Linked DNA regions of Homo sapiens. The protein of the gene in region 1 interacts with the protein of each later gene in a biochemical or structural test. Each region holds a gene or a part of one and is shown in the gene's direction. Other genes may lie near its edges.

Region 1 (3,918 bases):
GGCCCCTCAGCCCGTAGCAGTTATCAAGGAAACCATGGTTTTCCTCGCTCTTTTCCTTCATTTCTTCCTTCCTTTGCTGATATTTTTAAGTGCCTTCTGTAAGCCAAGGGCTATGCCAGGCATGGGGATTCAGCAATGTACCAAACACTCTGGTCCCCATCTTCTTGGAGCTCATAGTCTGAACAGGGACACAAAAGGGAGGTGATAAATTGGAATGCAATGACCTTAAACCTTGCTTTACTAATTTTTGTGTCTGTCTGCTGTTTAAAGTTAACATTTGAATGAAACACTTTTTTACTAAAGTATTAGAAATAGGAGTGCAGGTAAAGGCTAATCAGAGGTAAGGAGTGGAGTCTGGGCACGGTGGCTCACACCTGTAATCCCTGCACTTTGGGAGGCTGAGGCGGGTGGATCATGAGTTCAGGAGATCAAGACCATCCTTTCTAACACGGTGAAACCCCGTCTCTACTAAAAATACAAAAAATTAGCCGAGCGTGATGGCAGGTGCCTGTAGTCCCAGCTACTCGGGAGGCTGAGGGAGGCAGGAGAATGGCGTGAACCCGGGGGGGCAGAGGTTGCAGTGAGCATAGTTCATGGCACTGCACTCCAGCCTGGGCGACAGAGCGAGACTCCGTCTCAAAAAAAAAAAAAAAAAAGAATGGAGTCCGTTTTTCTGTAGTGCTACAGGGACAGATAAAAGAATATCAGAATATCACGGGGGTAGGGGGTGAGGTGGGGAAGCCAGCGTTGTTCTTTTTCTTTTTTTTTTTCTTGAGACGGAGTTTTGCTCTTGTTGCCTAGGCTGGAGTGCAATGGCACGATCTTGGCTCACCGCAACCTCCGCCTTATGAGTTCAAATGATTCTCCTTCCTCAGCCTCCCGAGTAGCTGGGATTACAGGCACATGCCACCATGCCTGGCTAATTTTTGTGTTTTTAGTAGAGATGGGGTTTCTCCATGTTGGTCAGGCTGGTCTTGAACCCCTGACCTCAGGTGATCTGCCCGCCTCAGCCTCCCAAAGTGCTGGGATTACAGGCATGAGCCACCGCGCCCAGCTGCCAGCGTTGTTCTTAGAGCCCAGAGATGGGAGGAAAATTAACCAGAGGCAGGTATTTGAAGGCAGTGGGACAGGAAGAGGCTTGTTCTGGACTTCCAAATGGCTTCCTTTAAAAAGAGGCATTTAAATTTTTCCAGTTGCTTTTTATAGTTGATCTAGGATAGAAAAATTATGGCCATCATGGTTTCCTTTCATATTGTTAAAAATGATCAAGGGGACTTTAAGATTTTATGAGAAAGGCAAATTACCATTGTTTTATTCCTCAGTGAACCTGGAGGAGCCAGACCTTTATCAGTCGTGTTGTGTTCCAAATATAACAGCTATATTCTCAATACAAAAGACTCTGATGAGAGCAACATGGGAGCAAAAAAGAGAATGTCCTACTTTCATTTTTTAAATATGTTTCAGAGGACTCATTAACAGGAAGTATATTTAAAATGCAAAAGGTCAACTTTGTACTTTGTTCTACTGGTCTCTGGGAGCTGGGAAAAGGCTTCTCTGCCTCTTTGGGGCCTTACAGTAAGGGTAGATAATATGCTAGCATCAGAGGATAAGATTCAGAGGAAAGCCTCTTTAGCCTGGAGATACGTGGTAGAGGCATTTTTAATTTCCTGTCTACTTTATATGGGATATTGGCCTTATCTGAAATAGTTTGATCAATACAGAAAAGTGCCACCTTGCAGTTTCACTCTCTTGCCCTTATATCATTTTTTTTATAAGCCTATTATTTTTTCCTCCTAGGACATTGAGGGTCTTCTGTGAAAATTCGTGATGTTGTTAGGCTATGTTGCAGGTAGCCACTGCCACTGGGAGTACTTGTAAGCAGATGTGTGTGGTGCAGTGGCTAAATACTGAGGCATAGCTGAGCATGATTTGCGTGTTCGTCATCTCTAATACGTTAATAGTGCCAAATGATCATTTTTTTCTCTAGTTGCCTGACCTGGTACCCCAGCTGGGGACACTCTACCAGTTAATGGAAAGCAGAGTCAAAACTTTTCAGAAACTTTCACACCTTCATGGAAAGCTTATTCTTCTAATTACACAAGTGAGTAAATCATATTGTTCTGGGCTAAAACTTTTGGACATGGTAGGAATGGAGAGAGGAATAAGGATCATTTTGAGACAGGGTCTTGCTCTGTCGCTCAGGCTGCACTGCGGTAGCATGATCATAGCTCACTGCAGCCTCGCTCAAGTGCCTCCCAAGTAGCTGGGACTACACGGATGCACCACCATGCCTGGCTAATTTTTAAATTTTCGTAGAGATGGCATTGCCTAGGCTGGTTTTGAACTCCTAGGCTCAAGGGATCCTACCACCTTGACCTCCCAAAGTGCTGGAATTACAGGCGTGACCCACCACGCCTGGCTGAGAGCTCCCTGTTTCAGTAAGAAATTGGTAAATCAGGATCTAGTCTTTAACTTGGAAAGCTTATCAGTTTGACAGTAAGAAAGTTTAGTTGTGTCTGTTTCAACTTTTACTCAAATCTTTTTCTCACCATTGTGTTTCAGTTGTTATACAGTTAGTAAGTTATAGGATATTTATACAGTTAAAATTTTGGCACAGAAAGATATTCTAATCACCTCAGAGTTTTTCAGCTTTACAGAGTAATTCTTTCCCTCTTGTATTTGAAGGACTTTTTTGCTCTGTATTGTATGAAGGTCCTCCATTATGGTGGTGGAGGGTGAGTTAGCAGCAAGCAGTGGGGAAGGTTGGGTATGCTGGTGGTCGTGATACTTGGGATATGTTTACACTCTACTTCAGAACAGTACTTTATCTTCTTCCAGGTAACAGCATCAGAGAAGACAAAGGGAGCAACTTCCCCTGGACAGAAGGCAAAGTTGGTGTATGAAGAAGGTAAAGACTGGGGGAATGGGATGGAGTCTAGAATTATAACATTCAGTTTTCAGTGACTGAGTTCTGTTATCTTTTTGAAAACGTCAACATAAGATCTTCCTTTGGCAAGCCTTCTCTAATTAAAATAGGCAAGTCCGTGGCAAAAATCTGTAATTCATCAGATAAGAAAAGAAAAGGCACAAGTATAATACAGTGACAAAAAAGGGCATTAGTTATGGAAGATTTTTTTTTTCTTTTCTTTTTTTTTTTTTTTAAGACAGTCTCAGTCTGTTGCCTAGGTTGTAGTGCAGTGCTGTGATCACAGCTTGCTGCAGCCTCAACCTCCTGGGCTCAATGCAATCTTCCTGTCTCAGCCTCCTGAGTAGCTGGGACTACAGGCGTGCACCACCATGCCCGGCCAACTTTGGTATTTTTTTGTAAAGACAGAGTTTCACTATGTTGCCCAGGATGGTCTCAAACTCCTGGGCTCAAGTGATCCCAATGTGCTTGGATTACAGGTGTGAGCCACCATGCCTGGCCAGGTATGGAAAATATTTAAATAGAAGAACATTATATGAACAAACTTAGTGTAAATACATTTAAAAGTCTAGGTGGTATAGTTAATTTTTAAGGAAACATTAATGACCAAAATTGACTTTAAAAGAAATAAAAAGTTTGAAAAAGCCAGTAGCTCTAAAATTGACTTTATAAAACTTCTCACAAGATATGCCCAGATATTTTGAAGGTTATTTGATCAGGCCTTCAAAGAACAAATCTTTTCTTTTCTTTTTTGCACAGACTCTCTCTGTTGCTCAGGCTGGAGTGCAGTGGCTCGAGGTCAATCATAGCTCACTGCAGCCTCAAACTCTTACACTCAAGCGATCATCCTGCTTCAGCCTCTAGAGTAGCTGGGACTGTTGAGCCACCATGCCTGGCCAATTTTCTTTTTTTAAAGGTAGAGATGAGGTCTCTTTGTTGCCCAAGCTGATCTTGTACACCGTGGCCTCAAAAACGGTCTTCTCGCGTCAGCT
Region 2 (3,918 bases), on another chromosome or scaffold:
TGAAGATGGTGGAGTTCAACTTTTTGATATAAGTGGGAGGGCTCCCCTCAGGCAGTTTGAAGGCCATACAAAGTAAGAGACAGTTGGTTTCTGTGTGTTCTGGTTTTATTTTGTTGTAAGCTCTTTTTTTCTCTGGACTTTGGTTAAAAAGATAGAGATCAGTTTTATGGAGATTATTTGCCTATAGGTACTATATTTCCTGATTGTTCTAAGAGTGCTTAACTTGGGTTCCGTGGTCCAGTTTCATGGGGCTTATGAATTCCCTAGAATTGTATGTGATATTTTAGGAAATACACGTTTATCTAGGGAGCTACTCTGTAGCTTTTGGTTAACTTTAGTGGGGTCTGTGGCCCAGCTGAGATTATGAATTACTGACCTGAAGACAACCTTACAGCTGGTAATGACAGCTCTATAGGCCTGTACTGTCTTAGAGGCTCTTATGTTGAAGTCAAGTAGGAAGGTGGATTTTCTTCTTGAATTTATAGTGTTTTGCCCCTTAATAAATTAAGTGGCCATCACAATTTTATATTATAACTTTGTTTTCAGGATTGCCAATGTCCGTGCTGAAATTTGTTAAAATTTAACAGAAATTTATGTAACATGATTCTATTTAGTGGTAAATCTCTTTAGAGTTTTTTAAAGAACTTTTTGAAATTTTAAAAATTAAAGTGCCTTTGCTTCCATATTCAGCAGCTAAGTGGAATTGTTTATATACTAGAAAATATAATTTTAAGGCTATCCTTTAATTTTTTTTAACTTTACAATATAGGAGTATTTACACTTCTTAATTGGTTTGGGGGCAAACACTTGTAAGTTTTCTCTTTCTTTCATGATTTCCCCCTATGAAGACTCCCTGAAACTCAGCTGCTTTTTTTTTAATCTGAGAAAAAGGAGCATTTTATGTTAGAAGGTATCAGAAAAATAATTTTCTTGCTTTTTAATATACTGACCTTCAATCTTTCAGAGCAGTTCATACAGTAGATTTTACAGCTGACAAATATCACGTGGTCTCTGGGGCTGATGATTATACAGTTAAATTATGGGATATTCCAAACTCCAAAGAAATTTTGACATTTAAAGAACACTCTGATTATGTGAGGTGTGGATGTGCTAGCAAACTTAATCCGGATCTCTTTATAACAGGTTGGTGAACTCTATTCCCTCCTGAAGCAAATAATCTCACGGGGATGTACTTTAATGTTGCTATGGGACTCTTTTGGGATGGAGGGGTTTAAATTTTTTTTATAAAGGAATATGTTTCTGATTAATTCTTCAGTTTTTAAATTAATTTTTATGTATGTATGTTTGCATTTATTTTCAGACAGGGTCTCACTCTGTTGCCCAGGCTGGAGTGCAGTGATGTGACCATAGCTCACTGCATCTGCTACCTCCTGGGCTCAAGTGATCCTCCCACATAAGCCTCCCAAGTAGCTGGGACTACAGGTGCCCACCACCACGTCCAGCTACTTTGTGTATTTTTTTGTAGAGACGGTTTTGCCATGTTGCCCAGGCTGGTCTCGAACTCCTGGGCTCAAGTGATCCACCTACCTCAATTTCCTCCCGGAGGACTGGGATTACAAGTGTGAGCCACCATGCCTGGCTTCCAATTGTTTTTTATTTTCTTATTCTTCTTTTGTTGATTGTTCATGTCTTCCAAATGTGTTTGGAAAAATCAGGCTGTCTTGAAAACATAATAGACTCTCAGAACTGTAATGTATAGTACCCTGCCTCAAGCAGCCAAGAAACAAAGAGTGCAGTTTAGCCTTTGTGGGTGCCTTTACAAAGATTTCCAGATGATTCAGTAGTGACAGTAGTCCAAAGAAAGAAATATTTTAAGATCAGAGCAAGTTAGATTCTGTATAGTATTATGTAGTGCTTCTTCAGACACGATCAGTAGTAGATGGTTTGGAGGTCCTGTGTCTTCATGAATATACATATATGTCTTTTTAAAACTCCATCTAAGCTTTTTTTCCTTTTAAAATTTATATCTGGATACACACAGTTTTTGTTGTTTTAAACAGTCAAACTAAAAATTCAAAAATTGACATTTTAGGATCATATGATCATACTGTGAAGATGTTTGATGCACGAACGAGTGAGAGTGTTCTCTCCGTTGAGCATGGGCAGCCAGTGGAGAGTGTCCTACTTTTCCCCTCTGGAGGTCTTCTGGTGTCAGCAGGTACTTCTTAAAAATAGCTTTCACCAATATTGTTGGTTTTGAATCACGTTTGTTTAAAATCAGTTGCTCTTTGTAATTTATCAGTGTGCATTTGAATTGCATATCTAAGTCTTTGTTCAAACAGTTGATAGGTAGGACTGGCAAGCAGTTATCATTTATTGTGTACCTAATGTGAGCCAGGCACTGTGCTGTTACATATGAACTCTAATGCCCTAGATGATGCTACAAGGTAGTTAGCTTTTTCCCTACTTTACAGCAATGAAATAAAAGTTTTAACTTATTTTTCAAGGCAAAGTGGTAAGTGGCAGATCTGAAATCACAGAACTCGAGAGCTCTGTGTATTTAGCCCTGTGCCATCTTATTTATTTAGCCCTGTGCCATCTTATTTAACCCCAGAAATTTAGCCCTGTGCCATCTTATTTAACCCCAGAAATTTAGCTCTTATGTATTTAGCCCTGTGCCATCTTATTTAACCCCAGAAATTTAGCTCATACTCCTTTTACTCCTACCTAAGAGATCTGCAGCAGCTTTTGAAAATCAGTTATTTGAGATCTAGTAGGCTTGTCTCTTTTTCTGTGACTCTCTTGATTGAAATGCCACTACCCAGCAAATAGCTGCTAGTACTAGAGAAAGGAGATAATGTGGCCTCAAAAGGGGCCTTGGTACATTTTTCAACAAGTTGGGACTGAGATGTTTTTCTCATTTTGCACATATTGCATTTTCATAATTACAGTGGAAGAAGTAAATTGGCTTTTTTCATTTGTAAATAAAGTAAAAATGTGTTCATATTAGAAGAATGTATAGGTAGTATGTATACTTGACAACATATATATTGCTGTGTGTACCTCCTTTTTTTTTTTTTCTTAATTCTAAAATCTGGCTAGAAATTACTCTGTTTTATATTCTTTTCCCCAGTACCTATTTGATTTAAAAATAAGTTGAGGCGGGATGTGGTTGCTCACGCCTGTAATCCTAGCACTTTGGGAGGCTGAGGCAGGCGGATAGCTTGAGTCCAGGAGTTTGAGACCAGCCTGGGCAACATAGCAAGACTCTAAGACTCCATCTTTAATTAAAAAAAGAAAAAAGTTGATAATGTCAGATGTGTCTACTTTTCTTGCTGTTATTCTGACAAATGGAAAAAATATCATGTTGAACAGGGAGAATAGAAAGCTGTGTGCTGATCTCCACTGTGTGTCACTAGCTAATTGTGACCTCGGGCAATCCCTTAAGGTCTCTAGACCTTGAAAATGAGAGGGTTGGACTAGATCAGTGATTTCAACTGTGATCCCTCTTGTGAGGTGCCACATAGGAGTGGAGAGGTGGGAACTGTGAGTTGGGTTCCAACTCCTGTTCCCCAGTCAAGATTTCAGTCTCCCCTTCCATCCCTTTTTCTGTCTTTCCATATTAGACTTTTTTGCTTGATATTTTGCTGCAGATCTACATTATTCACTTCCACTGCTATATAGAATTTCTTTTAAAAAATGATTTTATTATAATTTTCTTAAAATGGACTCTTTCAGTTATACATTTATTTTGCTGGAATTTATGTACACTTCACAAATATTATTTAATGGTCATAACAGTTCTGTGAGGTAGGAACTGTTATTACCAATGACCCAGGAAGTGGTGCATCCAGGATTTTACCAGGCAGCCTGGCCTGGACTCCCTCACTCAGCCTCCATGCTTTGTGGAGTGTCCAGAGAAGAATGCTTTTCAGATCTTTAATATGTTGAATCTGT

What was found.
Region 2: the proteins of WDR43 (region 1) and UTP15 form a complex in vitro, tested with the Homo sapiens proteins (one study listed by IntAct).

The regions. Positions count from the first base shown.
Region 1 is NC_000002.12:28,939,474-28,943,391, forward strand, and holds part of WDR43 (WD repeat-containing protein 43), read left to right. Parts: intron 1-1,987; coding exon 1,988-2,101; intron 2,102-2,838; coding exon 2,839-2,908; intron 2,909-3,918. UniProt on the Homo sapiens protein: Ribosome biogenesis factor that coordinates hyperactive transcription and ribogenesis. Part of the small subunit (SSU) processome, first precursor of the small eukaryotic ribosomal subunit.
Region 2 is NC_000005.10:73,568,533-73,572,450, forward strand, and holds part of UTP15 (U3 small nucleolar RNA-associated protein 15 homolog), read left to right. Parts: coding exon 1-72; intron 73-964; coding exon 965-1,143; intron 1,144-2,053; coding exon 2,054-2,179; intron 2,180-3,918. UniProt on the Homo sapiens protein: Ribosome biogenesis factor. Involved in nucleolar processing of pre-18S ribosomal RNA. Required for optimal pre-ribosomal RNA transcription by RNA polymerase I.